Linked DNA regions of Homo sapiens: all the other regions are linked to region 3. The links come from fine-mapping of genetic effects on gene expression. A gene starts in region 3. Each other region holds a variant in brackets. All regions are shown on one strand. Distances are between the middles of the regions.

Evidence for each region. PIP is the estimated chance that this variant, and not a neighbour inherited with it, causes the effect. A credible set is the group of variants that fine-mapping cannot tell apart.
Region 1: its variant is the best candidate, but not a certain one, in a credible set for the expression of JAM3 in Th17 cells (Schmiedel 2018, PIP 0.81).
Region 2: its variant is the best candidate, but not a certain one, in a credible set for the expression of JAM3 in subcutaneous fat (GTEx, PIP 0.59).

The regions. Positions count from the first base shown.
Region 1 is chr11:134,159,568-134,167,599 of GRCh38, forward strand. NCAPD3 (non-SMC condensin II complex subunit D3) reads right to left here. Exons shown (of 35, transcript NM_015261.3): 28 at 2,214-2,324; 29 at 325-507. Among named protein-coding and RNA genes, the nearest start is that of SNORD153, 12 kb to the left of the region's middle. The variant C/CAA (reference allele first, on the strand shown) is at 4,304.
Region 2 is chr11:134,102,953-134,110,984 of GRCh38, forward strand. The region is part of intron 1 of JAM3 (junctional adhesion molecule 3); the gene reads left to right. Among named protein-coding and RNA genes, the nearest start is that of JAM3, 38 kb to the left of the region's middle. The variant T/C (reference allele first, on the strand shown) is at 3,200.
Region 3 is chr11:134,064,534-134,072,565 of GRCh38, forward strand. JAM3 (junctional adhesion molecule 3) reads left to right here and starts at 4,539. Exons shown (of 9, transcript NM_032801.5): 1 at 4,539-4,626. The coding sequence starts at 4,551. RefSeq lists a silencer at 4,344-4,533.

The DNA of each region.
Region 1 (8,032 bases), 95 kb after region 3:
GCCGGTCTGCTCTAAAGAGGGAGTGCTGGGGGAAGATGCGGACACACTGACACACCCTGGCAGACCTAGGATCTATAGTCACCAGCTACTGCTGCTGCCAGCTCGCTTCCTGCACCACGTCCTCATGGAAGGGAGGTCTGGAGCACAGTAAATCCATCACAGACAGAAAGGCACGAGGGAGTGGCCAACAAGCAGCACTCTCGAGGCCTTCGGGCTGACTAACCTCTGATGACGGAGATCTTGAGAGGTGCCAGACAAACGACAGACTGGTAGCAGACAGCAGACTGGACTGTCTGGTCACAGTGCAGTGGGCCCCACACCTACCTGTGCCACAGGTGCCACCTCAGCACCTCCAGCCGTCCCGGCCACATCTGCATGTTTTGCTAGCTCCTGCTCCTGGACCAGCTGTTCCTGGTACTTCTTCATGTCATACTCAAGCTCTGATGCCAGCTGTTTGTCAACTGCAAAGAAGTCCTTGAGCTCATCTCGGTAATCCTGCATCACCTCCTGAAACAGAGCCAGGAGCATCCTTTCATGTTTTCTTGAATAAAAACGTAAAGCCCTAAACCCCCACGACACACCTTCGCCTGTGTAACAAACCTGCACATCCTGCACGTGTACCCCTGAACGCAAAATAAAAGTTAAGAAAGAAAAAAGCCCCCCAAGTCATGTTGCTTGATAAATCATAGGAACAATAGGACTGACATTACTGAAAGCAGATGATTTCCATTCCAGTAACTAACAGGTACAATGGTATATTTGGAGCAAACACCACTGGCCACACAAGCAGAAAAATATGTGAGTAACTAACAGTTCTCTCTCTTAGGAAGCATCCTGGCTATGTGGCAGTTAATGGGCAATCTCTCCCAGGTTCCCAATGGGAGAAAGACATGCTCAGACACAGCCTCTGGAGCAAGTCCCAGGATGCATGGATCTAAAAGCTGCTCATCTGTCTACATTAGCCTCCCCATTGGCTCTCAGGGGATTCCAACTAAGGCTCAAATCCCATCTTTGTGTCTTCTTCTGAAGATTTTACAGAAAACCTTTTCTCATACCTAGGGAAAAACATTCTTAGGTCTTAAAGAGGGGTGCCAGGGGCAAGACCACTTTGCTAAGAGAAAGAATCATTCCACCTAACAGTAATAGGGAGAAAAAGACACTGCAGTTCCAACTGGGAGGGAAGTCTCAACAAAGAGAAGGAATCCATGCACTTTTCCAGCTGCCACTAGGAGTGGGTTCCACAGGCCAATGAAGAGACTCCCTCAAGCTACTGACAACAAGCAACGTGTGGCCATCCTGTGTGTGTGCTCACAAGCAGGAGGAAGGCTTATTTTTCTTAAGTGTTTAAGTAGTCTATGTAGGATCAAAGCTCTGTTTTTGTTTTTTTTTTTCCTTTCTAGGGTCTAAAGTCAGGCAATAAATACAAGAATATTTGGAAGTTTTTATTTTTATCATACAATGAGACTATCTTTCCTACCTTGGCTTCCTAGTATAAAAAGCTATTTGAAAATTTATATTCAATGTAATTTTTGTTGAGGCCTTTATTGGAAAAAAAATTGTAGCATTTTTTTGAGGAAGAAAAACACATAATGTGAACAGAGCTATAACTGCTGAATTAAAGAAAAACTATGTTGCATTTATTTCTTAGTAAAAGATTTTGCAAGAAAGGTCTGAGGCCCCACTTAGGTCCGCCCTGCAAGTCAACACATCCTGGGTTTGCTCCGACTGAGCTCCTCATGGTCCCCTTGCTTGACAAAGAATTCAGCCTGGTGATGGCAGCTCCGAAGGCAGCTCCTGCAGGGCAGTTATTTCCTGACCTTGTGAATCTGAGTCAGTGCAAAAGGTAAGCACCCTGAAATCAAACCCGAAGACTCACTTTCACCTTACCCCCAAGCAGCATGAACGAAGATGACTGTGTTCTTGACCCCAGCTGGGAAAGTTTTCCAGATGGACTTGAACTCCATTAAGGGAAGACGTGCTTGGCACAGTGGGCCGGCTCTTCACGGCCCTGGCTGCACATCCAAGGGAAAGAGCGGCTTTGGTGGAACCCACAGCCAACCCCTAGCTCCACAGCAGTTACCAAGGTAATGTTGGGTTTGCAGAATTTGGGGTTCTAATCATTCACGGATTGCCTGCACTGTCATAACTGGCAGAAGATCCTAAGTAATGAACTGGTAGGACAACAACCACAAAAGCACAGGCTCCACCCTTACCCTGAGATAGTGCATGAGTTCCCGCAAAGCTGGGATCTTATTTTTCTCCAGCACAGTCTTCAGGGAGATGATAATTGGAATAATATTTTCTATGAAATTCCTCTTCTGAACCTGGTAACACAAACAAAGACATGTTTTAGATGTATGAACTTCTGAAAGACAGGCCTCTCCTTGATCTAGTTCTTTGAGTAGAGCCACCCTACCACACTATGTAAGTTTATTTTTGCTTTTCATTATGATACTGGATGTAGAGGACCTCTGCTTTTCTCTGGGAGACTTTGTAAGCATTACCTCAAAACACTCTGAAGGCTTTGTAAGATAGGGTGGGGACAAATACTACTCATATATTCTAAATGGGGAAAAAGAATTAGAAACATGTTGAGTAGCTTTTGACAAAAGCCCCAAATCTCCACAGAAGACCCTGAGGGACCTTGGCTCTTGCTCCACCTTCAGTCCTCAATTCAACACCCTCCCCTTGGAACAGAAGTCAGCTCGTTCTGGCTACCCAGAGGGACACTTCGTATTCCTGCTGGTGAAGGGACAATGGTCTAAAAATGGCTAAGCATGAAGACAGCCAGCTCTGTCTCTCTCTCTGTGTACACATCTACAAAATACTATGAATTTATATATATAGTACCTGATTTGACCAAGTCTTCACACTTTACCTTGAATGATCACTAACCACAAATATTCTCCAGTGAATCTCTTTAAATTAAAAAAAAAGCACTATAGTAGCCCACATATGCAAGATTTATCCTCCTGAAGCTGAAACTACTCTTTTCCTTCTCATTTAAAGTCACTAGTGTATGTTTCTTCCTTGTAAACTACTCATTTCTAAAAAGTCTTATCAGAGTTCCTGAAACAGAAGGACAACAAGTAGAGAAATAAGCAATTTAATAAACCCAGATGTGAGCAGATGTTATGTTCAGGAATAGTCTTAAGAAGTGGCTTCCATGCATTCACTTGACAAGTATTATCAAGCACCTTCTCTGTCCAGGCAAAGAGCTAACCCTCTGAGGATGCAAAATGAAGCTAAGCATCCCTGCCCTCCAGCCACTTCTAGAAAGTGTGTGTCTCAAGGGAAGAGGTGTTAAGTGGCAGGGTGTTAGGGAATTTAGGTATGGAGATGGGATGCCTAAGGAGTGCATGGCCATCTGATGGATGATCCTGAGGATGTGTGGAGAAGGGAGGATGGGTGGGTGAGGGCGCTGCAGACTTTAGACCCAGAGGCAAGAGCACACGAGTAGGGGGCAGCTCGCAACTGAGGTGCAGATGGCAATTTGAAGTGGAGAGGTTAGAGGTGAGGATGGAGGGAGGTATGGGAAAGGTGGAAGGCACACCAGAAGTTCTTGTTTACCTTGAAAAAGAAGAATCAGGGTTTATTCAGAAGATGACAGGAAGCCACCAGCATAGTTTTTAAAGATTTCACTAGTGAAGTATAACATATGTAATAAATTTACCCATTTTAAACAAACACTTCCATGAGCTTTGACAAAAGTCTATATGGAATAACCAGCACTACAGACCACTCACCATCTATCACCCAAAAGCTTCCTGCCACCCCTCACAGTCAACCTGCCTTTAGTCTGTTTCAGATATAATAAAATGATCAAATTTGTACTTAAGAAAGACTGCTGGGCTGGGTGTGGTGGCTCATGCCTGTAATCCCAGCACTTTGGAAGGCCGAGGCGGGCAGATCACGAGATCAGGAGATTGAGACCATCCTGGCAAACACTGTGAAACCCCATCTCTACTAAAAATACAAAAAAACTAGCCGGCCGTGGTGGCTGGTGCCTGTAGTCCCAGCTACTAGGGAGGCTGAGGCAGGAGAATGGCATGAACCCAGGGGGGCAGAGCTTGCACTGAGCAGAGATCGTACCACTGCACTCCAGCCTGGGCAACAGTGTGATACTGTGTCTCAAAAAAAAAAAAAAAAAAAAAGTTAGCCAGGCACAGTGGCAGGGGCCTGTAGTCCCAGCTACTCGGGAGGCTGAGGCAGGAGAATGGCGTGAACCTGGGAGGCGGAGCTTGCAGTGAGCTGAGATCGCGCCACTGCACTCCAGCCTGGGCGACGCAGTGAGATTCTGTCT[C/CAA]AAAAAAAAAAAAAAAAAAAAAGAAAAAGAAAGAAAGACTGCTCTGGCAGCAAGGTGGTACATGGCCTGTGACAGAAAGAAACCAGAAACAGAAAGGGTGGTAAGGAAACCATGGAAATGGGATAAGCTTAAATAAGGTCAGAACTAGAGAGATAGATTGGTAAGAGAAAACAGGCAGGATCTTGTGGCAAGATATGATCAGAGTCTATATCCTTGGAGTCAAAAGCCTCCAGAGGCCAGGTGGGAAATACACATTGGCAATCCAGGCTAGGAGGAAAACACAGGCCTGCAGAGGCCTGTGGCAGCCAAGCTCTGCCCCAGTCATTCAGATCCAAATTCTACACTTCCTGCCAACAAAAGCCTCAGCCTGACACACCAGACTCCAGTCTGCAAGAGCACCATAAACTGTGGGAGAAAGAGGAGATGAAGAGCAGAAAGAAGAGATGACTGAGGGAGTTTTGACAGAGTAAGTCAGAGACACCCGGAGCACGTCCTGGCAGCAGGGGGACCTGAGCTCAGGCTCATGAGAAATGCTGGAGTGGGAAACAGGTTTGAGAATTGTCACCATCTGGCAAGAGTTAAAGCCATCAGTAAGAAAGAAGTCAGCACCAGAGCATGGCACCAGGATTCCAGGGAGAACACGGAAGCCAGTAGATGGTGAGAAGAGTGGGACACTCACTTGTGAAATGAGCTTAGGGGAGCTGCACACTCACTTGTGACATGAGCTTAGGGGAGCTGCACACTCACTTGTGACATGAGCTTGAGGGAGCCGCATAATCACTTGTGACATGAGCTTGGGGGAGCTGCACACTCACTTGTAAAATAAGCTTAGGGGAGCTGTACACTCACTTGCGACATGAGTTTAGGGAGCTTCACACTCACTTGTGACATGAGCTTGGGGGAGCTGCACACTCGTGAAATGAACTTAGGGGAACTTCACACTCATGAAATGACCTTAGGGGAGCTGAACACTCACGTGTGACATGAGCTTGAGGGAGCTACATACTCACTTGTGACATGAGCTTAGGGGGAGCTGCACACTCACTTGTGAGATGAGCTTAGGGGGAGGGGCACACTCACTTGTGACATAAGCTTAGGGGAGTGGCATGCTCACTTGTGACACAAACTTAGGGAAGCTGCACACCCACTTGTGAGATGAGCTTAGAGGAGCTGCACACACTTAGATTAGCTGAGGGGGAGCGGCACACTCACTTGTGAAATGAGCTTGCGGGAGCTGCACACTCACTTGTGAGATGAGCTTAGGGGAGCAGCACACTCACTTGTGAGATGAGCTGAGGAGGAGCTGCACACTTGTGAGATGAGCTTGGGGGAGCGGCACACTTGTGAGATGAGCTTAGGGGAGCAGCACGCTCACTTGTGAGATAAGCTGAGGGGGAGCTGCACACTCGCTTGTGAGATGAACTTAGGGAAGCTGCACACTCACTTGTGACATGAGCTTAAGTGGAGGGGCACACTCATGAGCTTGGGAAGGGCGCACTCGTGAGATAAGCTTCGGGGAAGGGGCACACTTCTGAGATGAGCTTAGGGGAAGAAGCACACTCGTGAGATGAGCTTAGGGGAGTGGCACACTCATGAGATGAGCTTGGGGGAGTGGCACACTTGTGAGATGAGCTTACGGGAGCAGCACACTCACTTGTGAGATGAGCTTAGGGGAGCAGCACACTCACTTGTGAGATGAGCTTGGGGGAGGGGCACACTAGTGAGATGAGCTTGGGGGAGGCGCACACTCGTGAGATGAGCTTAGGGGAGGCCCACACTCGTGAGATGAGCTCAGGGGAGCAGCATACTCATTTGTGAGATGAGCTTGGGGGAGGCGCACACTCGTGAGATGAGCTTAGGGGAGCTGCACACTCACTTGTGAGATGAGCTTGGGGGAGGTACACACTCGTGAGAGGAGCTTAGGGGAGATGCACACTCACTTGTGAGATGAGCTTGGGGGAGGCGCACACTCGTGAGATGAGCTTAGGGGAGCTGCACACTCACTAGTGAGATGAGCTTGGGGGAGGGGCACACTCACTAGTGAGATGAGCTTGGGGGAGCAGCACACTCACTTGTGAGATGAGCTTGGGGGAGGGGCACACTCAGTGAGATGAGCTTAGGGAGAGCAGCACACTCACTTGTGAGATGAGCTTGGGGGAGGCGCACACTCACTAGTGAGATGAGCTTGGGGGAGCAGCACACTCACTTGTGAGATGAGCTTGGGGGAGGGGCACACTCACTAGTGAGATGAGCTTGGGGGAGGGGCACACTCACTAGTGAGATGAGCTTGGGGGAGCAGCACACTCACTTGTGAGATGAGCTTGGGGGAGGGGCACAGTGAGATGAGCTTAGGGAGAGCAGCACACTCACTTGTGAGATGAGCTTGGGGGAGGCGCACACTCGTGAGATGAGCTTAGGGGAGCTGCACACTCACTAGTGAGATGAGCTTGGAGAGGCACACTCACTAGTGAGATGAGCTTGGGGGAGCAGCACACTCACTTGTGAGATGAGCTTGGGGGAGGGGCACACTCACTAGTGAGATGAGCTTGGGGGAGGGGCACACTCACTAGTGAGATGAGCTTGGGGGAGCAGCACACTCACTTGTGAGATGAGCTTGGGGGAGGGGCACAGTGAGATGAGCTTAGGGAGAGCAGCACACTCACTTGTGAGATGAGCTTGGGGGAGGCGCACACTCGTGAGATGAGCTTAGGGGAGCTGCACACTCACTAGTGAGATGAGCTTGGAGAGGCACACTCACTAGTGAGATGAGCTTGGGGGAGCAGCACACTCACTTGTGAGATGAGCTTGGGGGAGGGGCACACTGAGTGAGATGAGCTTAGGGAGAGCAGCACACTCACTTGTGAGATGAGCTTGGGGGAGGCGCACACTCGTGAGATGAGCTTGGGGGAGGCGCACACTCGTGAGAGGAGCTTAGGGGAGCTGCACACTCACTTGTGAGATGAGCTTGGGGGAGGCGCACACTCATGAGAGGAGCTTAGGGGAGGCGCACACTCACTTGTGAGATGAGCTTGGGGGAGGCGCACACTCGTGAGATGAGCTTAGGGGAGCTGCACACTCACTAGTGAGATGAGCTTAGGGGAGCTGCACACTCACTAGTGAGATGAGCTTAGGGGAGCTGCACACTCACTAGTGAGATGAGCTTGGGGGAGCTGCACACTCACTAGTGAGATGAGCTTGGGGGAGCTGCACACTCACTAGTGAGATGAGCTTGGGGGAGCTGCACACTCACTTGTGAGATGAGCTTGGGGGAGGGGCACACTCACTAGTGAGGTGAGCTTGGGGGAGGCGCACACTCGTGAGATGAGCTTAGGGAGAGCAGCACACTCGTGAGATGAGCTTGGGGGAGGCGCACACTCGTGAGATGAGCTTAGGGGAGCAGCACACTCACTTGTGAGATGAGCTTGGGGGAGCAGCACACTCACTTGTGAAATGAGCCTGGGGGAGGCGCACACTCGTGAGATGAGCTTGGGGGAGGCGCACACTCGTGAGAGGAGCTTAGGGGAGCTGCACACTCACTTGTGAGATGAGCTTGGGGGAGGCGCACACTCGTGAGAGGAGCTTAGGGGAGGCGCACACTCACTTGTGAGATGAGCTTGGGGGAGGCGCACACTCGTGAGATGAGCTCAGGGGAGCTGCACACTCACTAGTGAGATGAGCTCGGGGGAGCTGCACACTCACTAGTGAGATGAGCTTGGGGGAGGGGCACAC
Region 2 (8,032 bases), 38 kb after region 3:
GGAGAACTTCCCCAACCTAGCAAGGCAGGCCAACATTCAAATTCAGGAAATACAGACAATGCCACAAAGATACTCCTCGAGAAGAGCAACTCCAAGACACATAATTGCCAGATTCACCAAAGTTGAAATGAAGGAAAAAATGTTAAGGGCAGCCAGAGAGAAAGGTCAGGTTATCCACAAAGTGAAGCCCATCAGACTAACAGTGGATTTCTCGGCAGAAACTCCGCAAACCAGAAGAGAGTGGGGGCCAATATTCAACATTCTTAAAGAAAAGAATTTTCAACCCAGAATTTCATATCCAGCCAAACTAAGCTTCATAAGTGAAGGAGAAATAAAATCCTTTAGAGACAAGCAAATGCTGAGAGATTTTGTCACCACCAGGCCTGCCCTACAAGAGCTCCTGAAGGAAGCACTAAACATGGAAAGGAACAACCAGTACCAGCCACTGCAAAAACATGCCAAATTGTAAAGACCATCGATGCTAGGAAGAAACTGCATCAACTAATGAGTAAAATAACCAGCTAACATCATAATGACAGGATCAAATTCACACATAACAATATTAACCTTAAATGTAAATGGGCTAAATGCTCCAATTAAAAGACACAGTCTGGCAAATTGGATAAAGAGTCAAGACCCATCAGTGTGCTGTATTCAGGAGACCCATATCATGTGCGGAGACACACATAGGCTTAAAATAAAGGGATGGAGAAAGATCTACCAAGCAAGTGGAAAACAAAAAAAAGGCAGGGGTTGCAATCCTAGTCTCTGATAAAACAGACTTTAAACCAACAAAGATGAAAAGAGACAAGGCCATTACATAATGGTAAAGGGATCAATTCAACAAGAATAGCTAACTATCCTAAATATATATGCACTCAATACAGGAGCACCCAGATTCATAAAGCAAGTCCTTAGGGACCTACAAAGAGACTTAGACTCCCACACAATAATAATGGGAGACTTTAACACCCCACTGTCAACATTAGACAGATCAACGAGACAAAGTTAACAAGGATATCCAGGAATTGAACTCAGCTCTGCACCAAGCGGACATAATAGACATCTACAGAACTCTCCACCCCAAATCAACAGAATATACATTCTTCTCAGCATCACATCGCACTTATTCCAAAATTGACCACATACTTGGAAGTAAAGCACTCCTCAGCAAATGTAAAATAACAGAAATTATAACAAACTTGTCTCAGACCACAGTGCAATCAAACTAGAACTCAGGATTAAGAAACTCACTCAAAACCACTTGACTACATGGAAACTGAACAACCTGCTCCTGAATGACTACTGGGTACATAACAAAATGAAGGCAGAAATAAAGATGTTATTTGAAACCAATGAGAACAAAGACACAACATACCAGAATCTCTGGGACACATTTAAAGTAGTGTGTAGAGGGAAATTTATAGCACTAAATGCCCACAAGAGAAAGCAGGAAAGATCTAAAATTGACGCCCTAACATCACAATTAAAAGAACTAGAGAAGCAAGAGAAAACAAATTCAAAAGCTAGCAGAAGGCAAGAAATAACTAAGATCAGAGCAGAATGGAAGGAAATAGAGATACAAAAAACCCTTCAAAAAAATCAATGAATCCAGGAGCTGGGTTTTTGAAAAGATCAACAAAATTGATAGACCGCTAGCAAGACTAATAAGAAAAGAGAGAAGAATCAAATAGATGCAATAAAAAATGATAAAGGAGATATCGCCACCGATCCTACAGAAATACAAACTACCATCAGAGAATACTATAAACACCTCTATGCAAATAAACTAGAAAATCTAGAAGAAATGGATAAATTCCTGGACACATACACCCTCCCAAGACTAAACTAGGAAGAAGTTGAATCCCTGAATAGACCAATAACAGGCTCTGAAATTGAGGCAATAATTAATAGCCTACCAACCAAAAAAAAGCCCAGGGCCAGATGGATTCACAGCCGAATTCTACCAGAGGTACAAGCAGGAGCTGGTACCATTCCTTCTGAAACTATTCCAATCAATAGAAAAAGAGGGAATCCTCCCTAACTCATTTTATGAGGCCAGGATCATCGTGATACCAAAGCCTGGCAGAGACACAAAAAAAGAGAATTTTAGACCAATATCCCTGATCAACATCGATGCAAAAATCCTCAATAAAATACTGGCAAACCAAATCCAGCAGCACATCAAAAAGCTTATCCACCATAATCAAGTGGGCTTCATCCCTGGGATGTAAGGCTGGTTCAACATACGCAAATCAATAAACATCATCCGGCATATAAACAGAACCAAAGACAAAAACCACATGATTATCTCAATAGATGCAGAAAAGGCCTTTGACAAAATTCAACAGCCCTTCATGCTAAAAACTCTCAATAAATTAGGTATTGATGGGACGTATCTCAAAATAATAAGAGTTATTTATGACAAACCCACAGCCAATATCATACCGAATGGGCAAAATCTGGAAGCATTCCCTTTGAAAACTGGCACAAGATGGATGCCCTCTCTCACCACTCCTATTCAACATAGTGTTGGAAGTTCTGGCCAGGGCAATCAGGCAGGAGAAAGAAATAAAGGGTATTCAATTAGGAAAAGAGGAAGTCAAATTGTCCCTGTTTGTAGATGACATGATTGTATATTTAGAAAACCCCATCATCTCAGCCCAAAATCTCCTTAAGCTAATAAGCAACTTCAGCAAAATCTCAGGATACAAAATCAATGTCCAGACATCACAAGCATTCTTATATACCAATAATAGACAAACAGCCAAATCATGAGTGAACTCCCATTCGCAATTGCTTCAAAGAGAATAAAATACCTAGGAATCCAACTTACAAGGGATGTGAAGGACCTCTTCAAGGAGAACTAGAAACCACTGCTCAACGAAATAAAAGAGGACACAAACAAATGGAAGAACATTCCATGCTCATGGGTAGGAAGAATCAATATCGTGAAAATGGCCATACCGCCGAAGGTAATTTATAGATTCAATGCCATCCCCATCAAGCTACCAATGACTTTCTTCACAGAATTGGAAAAAACTACTTTAAAGTTCCTATGGAACCAAAAAAGAGCCCACATTGCCAAGTCAATAATAAGCCAAAAGAACAAAGCTGGAGGCATCATGCTACCTGACTTCAAACTATACTACAAGGCTACAGTAACCAAAACAGCATGGTACTGGTACCAAAACAGATA[T/C]AGATCAATGGAACAGAACAGAGCCCTCAGAAATAATACCACACATCTACAACCATCTGATCTTTGACAAACCTGACAAAAACAAGAAATGGGGAAAGGATTCCCTATTTAATAAATGGTGCTGGGAAAACTGGCTAGCCATATGTAGAAAGCTGAAACTGGATCCCTTCCTTACACCTTATACAAAAATTAATTCAAGATGGATTAAAGACTTAAATGTTAGACCTAAAACCATAAAAACCCTAGAAGAAAACCTAGGCAATACCATTCAGGACATAGGCATGGGCAAGGACTTCATGTCTAAAACACCAAAAGCAATGGCAACAAAAGCCAAATTTGACAGATGGGATCTAATTAAAGAGCTTCTGCACAGCAAAAGAAACTACCATCAGAGTGAACAGGCAACCTACAGAATGGGAGAAAATTTTTGCAATCAACTCATCTGACAAAGGGCTAATATCTAGAATCTACAAAGAACTCAAATTTACAAGAAAAAAACCTCATCAACAAATGGGCAAAGAATATGAACAGACACTTCTCAAAAGAAAACATTTATGCAGCCAAAAGACACATGAAGAAATGCTCATCATCACTGGCCATCAGATAAATGCACATCAAAACCACAATGAGATACCATCTCACACCAGTTAGAATTGCGATCATTAAAAAGTCAGGAAACAACAGGTGCTGGAGAGGATGTGGAGAAACAGGAACACTTTTACACTGTTGGTGGGACTGTAAACTAGTTCAACCGTTGTGGAAGACAGTGTGGCGATTCCTCAGGGATCTAGAACTAGAAATACCTTTTGACCCAGCCATTCCATTACTGGGTATATACCCAAAGGATTATAAATCATACTGCTATAAAGACACATGCACACGTATGTGTATTGTGGCACTATTCACAATAGCAAAGACCTGGAACCAACCCAAATGTCCATCAATGATAGACTGGATTAAGAAAATGTGGCACATATACACCATGGAATACTATGCAGCCATAAAAAATGATGAGTTCATGTCCTTTGTCGGGATATGGATGAAGCTGGAAACCATCATTCTCAGCAAACTATCGCAAGGACAAAAAACCAAACACCGCATGTTGTCACTCATAGGTGGGAATTGAACAATGAGAACACTTGGACACAGGAAGGGGAACATCACACACCAGGACCTGTTGTGGGGTTGGGAGAGGGGGGAGGGATAGCATTAGGAGATATACCTAATGTAAATGACGAGTTAATGGGTGCAGCACACCAACATGGCACATGTATACATGTGTAACAAACCTGCACGTTGTACAGATGTACCCTAGAACATAAAGTATAAAAAATATATATAAATAGTCAAAAAAAAGTGTTTTGAAGTGAATGAAAATAAAAATGTGACATCAGAATTAAGACTAGGCCACTAAAGCAGTAACTAGGGTGAAATCTACAGCATGAAAGACCTATATTCGAAAAGAAGAAAGGTCTGAAATCAGTGAGTTCATCTACTTTATGAAATTAGAAAAAGAGCCTGGGCAACATAGCAAGTCCCCATCTCTACAAAAAATTTAAAAATGAGCCAGGCATGGTGGTAGATGCCTGTAGTCCCAGCTACTTGGGACATCGGGGCAGGAGAATTGCTTGGTCCCAGGAAATTGAGGCTACAGTGAGCTAATATTACGCCACGGCACTCTGGCTAAGCAACAGAGAAAGACCTTGTCTCTAAAATAAATAAATAAACAGAAAAATAGGAAAAAAAATCAGAAAAAGAACACATATTCAAAGTAAGCAGAATAAAGAAGATAATAAAGGTAAAAGCAGAAATCATGAGACTTCAGAAAACAAAAACAACAGAAAAAAACCAGTAAGTCCAAAAGCTGTTTCTTTGAAAATATCAGTAAAATTAAGAAACCTCTACTAGACTAATTGGGAACAATAGAGAAAAGAAACAAGTTAACAATGCCAGGAATAAGATAGGTGACTATAAACACATTAAAAGAATGATAAGAAAATATTATGAACAACTTTATGCTTAAACATTTCACAACTTGGATCAAATAAATTTCTTGAAAGACACAACTACCAAAGCTCACTCAAGAAGAAATAAGTGGCCTGAATAGCCTAACATCTACTTTTTAAAAATAATTTATAGTTAAAAAAAAAACTGCCCACAAAGAAAACTCCAGGCCCAGATCACTGGTGAATTCTACCAAACATTTAAGAAAAAAAAGACACCAATTCTAACGAAACTCTTCCAACAAAGTGAAAAGAAAGAATTATTTCCCAAAGTATTCTATGAGGCCAGAATTACCCTGATATCAAAACCAGAGGCATTACAAGAAATCTACAGGCCAATTTCCCTCGTGAACATAGATGCAAAAATTTCAAACAAAATCTTAGCAAGTCAATCATAAAAAAGACCAAGTTCTGGCTGTTTGTGTGTATAGGAAGAAAACAAAAACAAAAACCAACCGAGGTTTATCCCAGGAATGCAAGGTTGGTTTAACATATGAAAATCAGTTAATGTAATTCATTATAATAACGCAATATCACCATATTACATTCTCAACAGATGCAGAAAAAGCACTTGACAAAATTCAACATCCATTTATGATAAAAAAAACTTTTGGAATAGGAAGGAACTTCCTGAGACAGACAACAGCAAAACAACAGAGGTAAATCAATAAACCAAAAGCTGGTTCAATTAAGCCAAAAATTAGGAATAGAGGGAGTTTCCCAATCTGATAAACAATATCCATGAAAAAGTTATAGGTAATATTATATTATTGGTAGAAACCAGACAAAAATACCTGCTCTCACCAGCTCTTTTAACTTTAATACAGAGTCTCATTCTATCTCCCGGGCTGGAGTACAGTGGCACAATCTCAGCTCACTGCAACCTCCACCTCCCAGGTTCAAGCAATTCTCGTGCCTTAGCCTCCCGTGTAGCTGGGACTACAGGCACGAGCCACCACACCACCCCCGGCTAATTTTTGTATTTTTAGAAGAGAAGGAGTTTTACCACGTTGGCCAGGCTGGTCTCAAACTCCTGGCCTCATGTGATCCACCCACCTCAACCTCCCAAAGTGCTGGGATTACAGGCGTGAGCCACCGTGCCCGGCCTGCTCTCACCACTTCTATTCAACACTGTATTGGAGGTTCTAGCAGTGCAACCAGGGATGAAAAAAAGAACTTAAAAAAAATTAGGAAGAAGTAAAGCTGTCTTCATATCTTTATTTGCAGAGGACATTAACATTTATGTCAGGGATCAGCAAACTACAATCCAAAGGCCAAATATAACTGTTGCCTGGTTTTTTGTTATTTGCTTTTGCAAATAAAATTTTATTGGAACACAGCCACATCCATCCATTTACTTATCAACTATGGCTGCTGTAAACCCAAAAGATCTGAGACAGGTCTCAATCAATTGAGAACTTTATTTTGCCAAGGTTAAGGACATGCCCGGAAGAATAAAACATGGAATCACATAAATGGTCAGTGGTCTGTGCCTTTTTTCAAAAATGATTTTGAGGGCTGCAATATTTAAAGGGAAAAAGTGGGCTGGAGGGGAAAGAGGGAGAATGTGGTAATCCACATGTTGCAAGAGAAAAGGAGCAGGTAGGGAAATAGTCAATTATGTATTCATATTGTGCCCAGTAAATAAATACTTTACATAAGATAAGGTGAACATGGAGTAGCTACCTGGGGAGATACTGAACCTTTTCTCTATAGCTGTCTGCTTAGAAACAAATGGAAAGGCAGCTTCTTGTAGGACACAGCTTTCAGCTTAGTTTTTTCCTTTTGGCAGAGTGAAGTGGGGTCTGAGTTTTTATTTTCCCTTCACATTGCTTTCACTCTAAAATGGCAGAGTTGAGTAACTGTAGCAGAGATCTTATGAATGGAAAATAAATACAAGATGCTTAACCTAATTTGCATCATTTAATTTGCACCTTAATGCAAATTAAAACCACAGTAAGATACCACTGTGCATCTATCAGAATGACAAAAACTAAAAAGATTGACTATACCTAGTGTTGGTGAGGGTATCAAAAACAAGATTTCCCATCCATTGCAGGTGGGAATGTAAAATGGTAAGACCAATTTGGAAAAGTGTGATTAAAAATGAAAAGATAGACCTATTATTTGATTCAGTTATTATACTCCCACATACTTATGTAAGAGAATGAAATCATATGTTTATACAAAGATTTGTACACAAATATTTATTTGTAGCATCTAAAAACTGGAAATAACCCAAATGCCCATCAATAGTAAATAAACATCTGGTGGTATTTCCATAAATGGAATATGACTATTCAGCAATAAAAACTAATAAATTATTGATGCATGCTGCCACATAAATGAATCTCAAAATAATTATGCTGAGTGAAAAAGGCCAGACAAGAAGAGTACATATGGTATGATTCCATTTATTTAAAATTCTAGGAAATCCAAACTAGTGACAAAATCGCTAAGTGGTTGCCTGGGGACAGGGCAGATGGGGTGAATAAGGAAGGAAGGGCAGAAGGGAAGGATTACAGGAGCATTAGGAAACTTTTGAGGGTGGTGGGTAGGTCGGCTAGAAACCTGGGAGTTGCTGGATATGTTCGCTATTGTGGTTGTGGTGGTGGTGGTTTCAAAGCTTTACGTATATGCTAAATTTTATCGAATTATATGGTATAATTTAAATATGTGCACTTTATATGTCAATTATACCTTGATTGTTTTTTTAAAAGTCCAAAACCAAAAAATTGGGCTCTGATGTGTGGCCATGTGAATGAGTGATCTGGTGAAAAAGGATACACTAGCTCTGTACCAAATCCCTGACTCCCAAAACTGGACATAG
Region 3 (8,032 bases):
TGTCCCTGAGGCTCATCAGTGTCCTCAGCCCCGAGGCACAGTCCAGAAAACAGCTTCTCACCTTCTCCCCAGGCCAGGGCAAATATTCAACAAGTCAGGTGAAGAGGGTAAAAAAATGCTGGTCTGTTTTATGTCATCACAGGGATCCCTCCTGGAAGGTGACTGGGGACTGCTGTTTACTGGCTATCTCAGACATCTTTTCTCAGACACCTTTTCTTTGGTGTCTGCAGGGGCACCTGCTTCTCCACATCCTCAAAGAAAGAATTGAGGCAGACACCCTGACACAGGCAGAGTGGGTGATATTCTTCATGGGGCCTGAAGTGAGAAATTCCCAGGAACATCAGCCCTAGGGAAGCGATTCTGTGTCAAGGGCTTTCCTTGTGTTATTGTCCACTGTTGGTTGTCCTGTTGTGTTTTAAGGTGCACCAGTAAAGAGCCCTTGGCTGATAGAGATACCACCAGGATACTTTAACTCCTGCCCTAGCATAAGGGTGTGACTCTCTTTAACTCCTGGCATGTATGATATTTCTACTGAAAGACACACACACACACACACACACACACACACACACGAACACCTAGCCTTCTTTTGGTGAAATGCAAAAGGTTTATTAAATAGCTGCTTATGAAAGCCTCTCTCTAGGAAGCCACTTGACCAAAATCTGCCATTGGTATATAAACTTTTTCAGCAAAGGAGAGAAATGTGCAAATAGATCGAACTGCGGAAGAACTTTTCTTCTTTTGCAGACCACAAGCGGCATATGTTATTGGAGAAGATGGAAGTTTTGTCTGCTACTGTTTCCTTAGAGGGAGGTGGGAGAAGGTTTTCCTATTTAAATAAAATTAAAGAAATACTTTGAAGGAAAAAGCAGGGGATAAGAGTTGAGATAAAATGTGGGATAACATAGTTGAAAATATTGTGAGGAAGATGGGACTTAAAGAGAGGAGAGATGGAGAAACAGAAACATACCCAGGTCTTTGAAAAGCCCTGAAGAAGAATGCTTTAAAGAAGGACTCTGAGGTCAGAGACTTCCATTAGTCAAAGGATCCCACTTCTCTCATGCGATGCGGGTTGACTTCAGATGATTGTTCAGGGCTAGAATAGCATAGTAAAGGAACAGAAGTCATGGATCACATTCCTTTTTTTCTTTTTTTTGAGACATGAGGCATCGGTCAATACATGTAAGGTGTACATTGGTTCTGTCTAGAAAGGTGGGACAACTATAAGTGGGTGGGGTTGGGATTTCAGGTCATAGGCAGATTCAAAGATTATTCTGATAGAAAGGAAGGTCTGGTCTGGCTCTGGGGCAGTGGCTCGCTTCTGTAATCCCAGCACATTGGGAAGTTGAGGCGGGCAAATTACTTGAGCCCAGAAGTTCAAGATCAGCTTGGGCAACATGGTGAGATCCCATCTCTACCAAAAAAAAAAGTAGAAAAATTAGCCAGCTATGGTGGCGCACACCTGTGGTCCCAGCTGCTCAGGAGGCTGAGGTGGGAGGATTGCTTGAGCCTGGAGGTTGAGGCTCAAGCATGAGCCACGATTGTGTGCCACTGCACTCCAGCCTGAGTGACAGGGTAAGACCCTGTCAAACAAACAAACAAACAAAAACAAAAAACAAAACAAAAAAAAAGCAAGCAAGAAAGGAACGTCTGTGTTAGAATAACGGTTGTGGAGACCAAGTTTTTATCATGCAGATGAAGCCTCCAGGTAACAGGCTTCAGAGAGAGAGAGAGAGTCTGTTGTATCAGTCTTTTTTGTTTGTTTGTTTTTAGACGGAGTCTCATTGTGTTGCCCAGGTGGAGTGCAGTGGCACGATCTCAGCTCACTGCAACCTCCGCCTTCTGGGTTCCAGCGATTCTCCTGCCTCAGTCTCCCAAGTAGTTGGAACTACAGGCATGCATCATGATGCCTGGTTAATTTTTTGTATTTTTAGTAGAGACAGGGTTTCACCATGTTGGCCAGGCTGGTCTCAAACTCCTGAACTCAGGTGATTCGCCCACCTTGGCCTCCTAAAGGGCCTGGATTACAGGCCTGAACCACCGCACCTGGCCCTATCAGTCTTAAGATCTGTTTTAATGTTGATGCTGGTCAGTTGGCCTGAATTCCAAAAGGGTGGAGGGTATAATAAGGCATATCCAACTCCCCGATCATGGCTTAAACTAGTTTTTCAGGTTAACTTTGCAGTGCCTTTGGCTGAGAGGAGGGGTCATTTCAGATTGTTGAGGGGCTTAGCTTTTTTTTTTTTTTGAGACAGAGTCTCACTCTGTCACCCAGGCTGAAGTGCAGTGGCGCAATCTTGGCTCACTGCAACTTCCACCTCCCGGGTTCAAGTGATTCTCCTGCCTCAGCCTCCCGAGTAGCTGGGATTACAGGCGCCTGCCACCATGCCTGGCAAATTTTTGTATTTTTAGTAGAGACAGGGTTTCACCATGTTGGTCAGGCTGGTCTCAAACTCCTGACCTCATGGTCTTCCCTCCTTGGTCTGCCAAAGTGCTGAGATTATAGGCGTGAGCCACCACGCCTGGCCAGGGCTTAGCATTTTATTGTTGGTTTACATTCAGTTCCCCGAGCTCTTTTAAGAAGTGCATGTCTCCCTAGTAAGCCACACCTTAGAAATAAGCATATTCAGATGAGTAATGCTGTGATGGAGGCAGAGCCTCCTCAGCCCTGCTCACGGAATGCTTCCAGGACTTTGCTGCTGGCCTTATTGAGCTCTGATTCCCTTCTGCACAGGGTCAGAGCTCTCCAGGGAACAATGAAACCCTAAGGAAGAGCAGACCACTTCACAGCCACGTGTGTCCTACCCCACTCTGCTGCATCCCTAGTTAGACTTCCATTCCAGGAACTGTCTCAGCTGTTGGTAATGACATGCCGACTCCATCTGCAGAGGAAAATCAATGTCTTACAATGAAGCACCTGCCATCCACTCTCCTAGGAACCTCTGCCCCTTATAGAATATTCATGCAGCCCTTTTTTGTAATCTCGGTCTGAGTTTCAAAAGATTCCCTAGCAGGAAGACCATTTAACAGATAGACCATTTTACAACGCAAACACTGAAAATTCCGCAGGAGAAAAGAGGCACTGGTTTTTGAAAACCGTGCTCTGTCCACAGTCAGACACCATCTCACATTTCCAAGTAACCCAAACAGTTCCTTCAGTTAGGTAAATATGCCTGGCCATGTGACCAGGAGCTAAAGGGAATAATAGGGAAAACAGAGGGCAGAAAAAAATGTCAGTGGGCATAAGACGAATTTTCTTCTTTTTAATTTCTCGATTTTGTGCTTGATAAAGGGAAAGAGGCCACCATTATAAAACAACTTTTACACACTTTTACTTGTGATTTAGTGCATGGTGACCTGGAACATAAAGAAGATTTATGAAAGGAAAGACAGAATCATAGTAGGTAATTGAGTTATTTTTTAATTTTTATTCTGTCTTTATAAGATTTTTGAGAAGGTAATCAATTAACATAAAGATCTGAGCAGTTATAAAGATTTACAAAGAAGATTATACAGTGATGGAAACTGAAGCATATTCTTGGCAACAATCTCAATCTATTTCACGTTTCCCGGCTTTTACATATATAAATTTGGTATACATAATATGTAAATATACTTCTATTTTGCATGAAAACTAAAAATACTAAAAAAGTAGCATGAGTATATGAAAAAGTTAAACATTAAAAATATTAGTTGGAAACTGGCTTATTTTACTAACAATTATATTCAGAATTCTGTTGCTAGACTGCTGTTTCTGGGAACATTGGAGGTGTACTTTCTATACTTGCTAAAATACAAGCTTTTCAAGTATTTTCCATAGTATTAAGTGAGACTTTAAATACTCTTGCTTTTTTAGATCTAATTTCTGCTTTAATTTATCCTTCTCTTCATTTTTCCTGTTTGTCCTCATCTTACCTGTTCTTCCCTGGTTTTACTATCTCCCAGTATTCAGAAATCAGAGCAAATAATTAGTCTGCTTTTCTGCAGAATAAACTATTGGGTATGCCATCATGCTTTTGATCTACCACATAAACAAATTATTTTAGCAAGACATCACTTTTATATGCTGTATAATGTATGTATTGCTTATGTTTTAAGCAGATTTCAGCTCTTTTCCTTCCATCAATTTGGAATTGGGGGCCCAAAAGATGTGAAGGCGATAATGCTTCCAAGATAACTGGGCTGCATCCTTATTTGTAAAATAAGAAATACTTTATTTCCCAAATTTTAAAGGAGTGTTCCTTCTCCGACCTGTTGTGATGGATTTATTCTATAGCTATGGAAATATACCCTGCTTCACTCTTGTACATACTTCTTTACTCTCCTCCCGCCAAGTTCATTGAAAGAGAACCCATGTGCCGGTCCAGAGCATCGCTGCATCCGTAAGCAGCTAGACCTCAGCTTCCTCTGTCACCATGGTGCCGGCTCGGCTGGGCCCGGCGGTCGCCATGGTAACTGGGGCGGGTCGCAGGGTCCTGGCAGGCTGGGCGCATGCGCGCGGGGACTACAAGCCGCGCCGCGCTGCCGCTGGCCCCTCAGCAACCCTCGACATGGCGCTGAGGCGGCCACCGCGACTCCGGCTCTGCGCTCGGCTGCCTGACTTCTTCCTGCTGCTGCTTTTCAGGGGTGAGTTTGCGCGTTTCCGCTGTTGGGAGACTAGGGTCTGGGGGCGACGGAAGCAGAGCGGGCCGAAGCTGCTGGAGCCGGTCCGGGCGAGGATAGCGGTCCTGGCTCCGAGGGCTCCCGGGGTCCCGGGCCGGAGGGGCGGCGCGCGCCCGCGTCCCCGCAGCCAGGGCTGGGACTCGGGCCTGGCTAGGGCGGGGGCCCTGGGACGCCCGGCAGTTGGACCGGGGCGGGGAGCTAATTTGGGATGGGGGGCCCGTCCCAGGCAGTGAGTCGGTCCCGGACAGCCGTCGGACCCCGGGGGCGGGCTCTTCTCGGGCGGGGTCCTGTGCTGGGCGGTGGGCTCATCCCCCGGGTGGGCTCCTCCCAGGCGGGGTCCTGTGCTGGGCGGTGGGCTCATCCCCCGGGTGGGCTCCTCCCAGGCGGGGTCCTGTGCTGGGCGGTGGGCTCGTCCCCGGGGTGGACCCCTCCCGGGCGGTGGGCACGGCCCTCTGGAGGGAGCGCGGCAGCTGCGGCGTGGGCGCTGGAACTTGCTGGAAGACCCTGCGCAGCAGTGCTGTGCTCTCCAGAAGGGACGGTGAGCGGGGGACGTAGCTGAGGACCGGCGAGGCAGAGCTCCGAGGCCTGGCGGGCTGCTTGGTCACAGCCCTCTGGGGATCTGCAGTTCATTTGACTCGACACAAAGGAACTGCTTTTCTTTTACAGAAATAAAATGGATATCAATCCAGTACCTTTTTTGTCTCTGGCCTGGCCGAGGAGACCACGCAGACTCTTATCCGGAAATAGCATTCGGGGCATTTGATCAAGACACACTAATAAACTTGATAGTTTTGTGCATTTTCTTTCCCTCTGTTTGGAATTCTCATTAGATCCACATTTTCCTGGACAGTTGTACAGAGGACTAAAATAGCTTTCCTTTAGTGAGCTTGTACTGTCTACTAGGCACTTTGGAGCCATTATCTCGTTTACTCCTTTCAGCAGCTCTGTGAGATAGGTTTCATTAATCCATTTTCAGAGTCAAGTCTAGTCTGCTTTCCAAGGCTGCATTCTAAGTAGTGAAGCCTCAACTTCATATTTACCTAAAGCAGGACACCACACTCTTCCCCTGGCAGCCATCCGCAGGTAACCAGACCAGGACCTTTTTCGGTTCTTAGATTATTTTATTGTTTGAATTGCCACTGTCATCCCATGATGTTTTCCAGAATATACAAATTAAAACACGGAGGGACTGTTTAGGAGTGAAGGTGGACAGATTTTGGAAAACAAAGCATTCCTGTGTTTGGTGCTTTATGCTAATGGGATGCTCGTGATGGGCTGTGACAAAAGATGAGTTTTAGCGTATAGATTATGTACGCTAAGGCAAAGTCTGTATACTTTGCCTGAAAGTGATTCCCAAAACCAAATGCTGTTGGGAGATAAGTGATCAAAGGCTAGCCAGGGGACAAGGGTGTCAGGAATGTCCAGCACCCGCTGTGTTGGTCACACTGACACTGTCCTATTCACAGCCTGGAACAACTCTCTATTGTTGAAAAGATCTGTTCACGTGAAAGTTTGCAGTTTTTGTTGCAGAAGCATTTGGCAGTTTAGCTCAGGAATGAATTTCAACTTGGTAGTTTGTTAATAAAACTAGAAAATGCAAAGAGCTTCACTTACCCTTAACCTCTGATTTCCTTCCCCTAAGGGACTAGTTTTGTGGCTTTTTTGCTGGTAGGGGCTGGGATTCACATGCAGAGCGTAGGAGGAAGAATCAAATTTTGCAAACTAGTTCTAATGACAAATAATCGAGGTAGTAGGATGTATGAATCCACTTTGAAGGCGTGTAGCTATCTTTTTTTTAGTAGGGGCTCTTTTTCCATTATTTGGTTTATGCTTTAAGCTACCCTAAAACTGTTCTTCCAGAAGTCATGACTACTGTGTCCTTTTTATTTTTTATGATTATTCTCAATTGCTATTACTATTTATTTTCATCTTAAAAATTTTGGTTCTTGATATAACAGCAAACATTTCTTTTGTGGTTACCCTTTGCCAGGCTCTGTTACAAGAATTTAATGTTTGCTAATTTATTTAATCTTGATAACTCTAAGAAGTCGTTACTATTGTTGTGCCCTTTTGTGGATGAGGGAACAGAAGTATGGAGAGATTCAGACCCTTGTCGGGAGTGTTATCCTGTGCGTTTTAAATGGGAAATCCTTCATTATTTGTGTTAATCCAATTTTTAGTTATTTGTATTATTCCATTTGACGGTGGAGTTCTTTTAATGGATCAGTTTAAACAGATTATCAAGTTTTCAACACTATGTGGTTTGTATATAAAATATTCTTTTGTTGACTCATGACAGGTGCAGTTCAGCTTTACAAATGTTATGCCACATGGCTTTTTTGAATGATTGTGTACTCATTAGTGTTAGGTTTCCAAATCTTTGATATTCTAGAGAGAAGTGCCTTATTTAGAATTAAAACAGCAACAGTTTTCATTCTTCAGATAAGACAACTTGTGTGCTGAAGCATATCAAAATCTGAAAATCAAAATTTCTGGGAAATTTTTGAAAAAATGTTTAATTCTTTTATTTGCATCTGTTTGGACTCCAGTAACGTTTTTTAGAATGGCATATTCTTTTATGTTCTAATTCTTAATTATCTGGCAGATATAATCATTGTCAGACTTGTGTGTATGTTTTAAAAAAAACAAAGAACACCTGTCTTGAAAGCATGCAGTACTTTATATCAGCTGCTCATTCCCACATGACTTGTTGATGGGCATTTGTTCTTCAGTGCTTCAGGCTAAGGAGACTGAATGGATAAGTACTAGAGATACTTAATCATAAGTAATTGCAGTATTACATTCAGGCAGAATTATCCACACAACCCCTAAGCTCCATGGAACTTGTTCTTAAACTCCATGGGGTGGGTTTAAATCAGTTCTTTTGAAAGCAACCAGACTTTCCTCAAGTATAAGATGGCCACATAATGTAACAGACGCAGCTATGGATTTAGTACATTCGACTAGCAGCTGTTAGAGATGTGGTATTAGCAAATTCCTTCTCCATAAATTCTTTGAATTTTTTAAAAGCACAAATGTAGTAAAAGAAAGGAAAATATGTGTGAATGAAGTTAGGATGTATGGAGTCTGCTGAAGAATACCCTAGTGGTGAAGTTGGATTTTTTTTTTTTTTTGAGACTGAGTTTCTGATGCAGTGGCATGAGCTCAGCTCACTGCAAAACTCACTGCAAAACTCCGCCTCCCAGGTTAAAGCCATTCTCCTGCCTCAGCCTCCCGAGTAGCTGAGATTACAGATGCGTGCCACCTTGCCTGACTAATTTTTTTATTGTTTTTAGTAGACATGGGGTTTCACCATGTTGGCCAGGCTGGTCTTGAACTCCTGACCTCAAGTGACCTGCCCGCCTTGGCC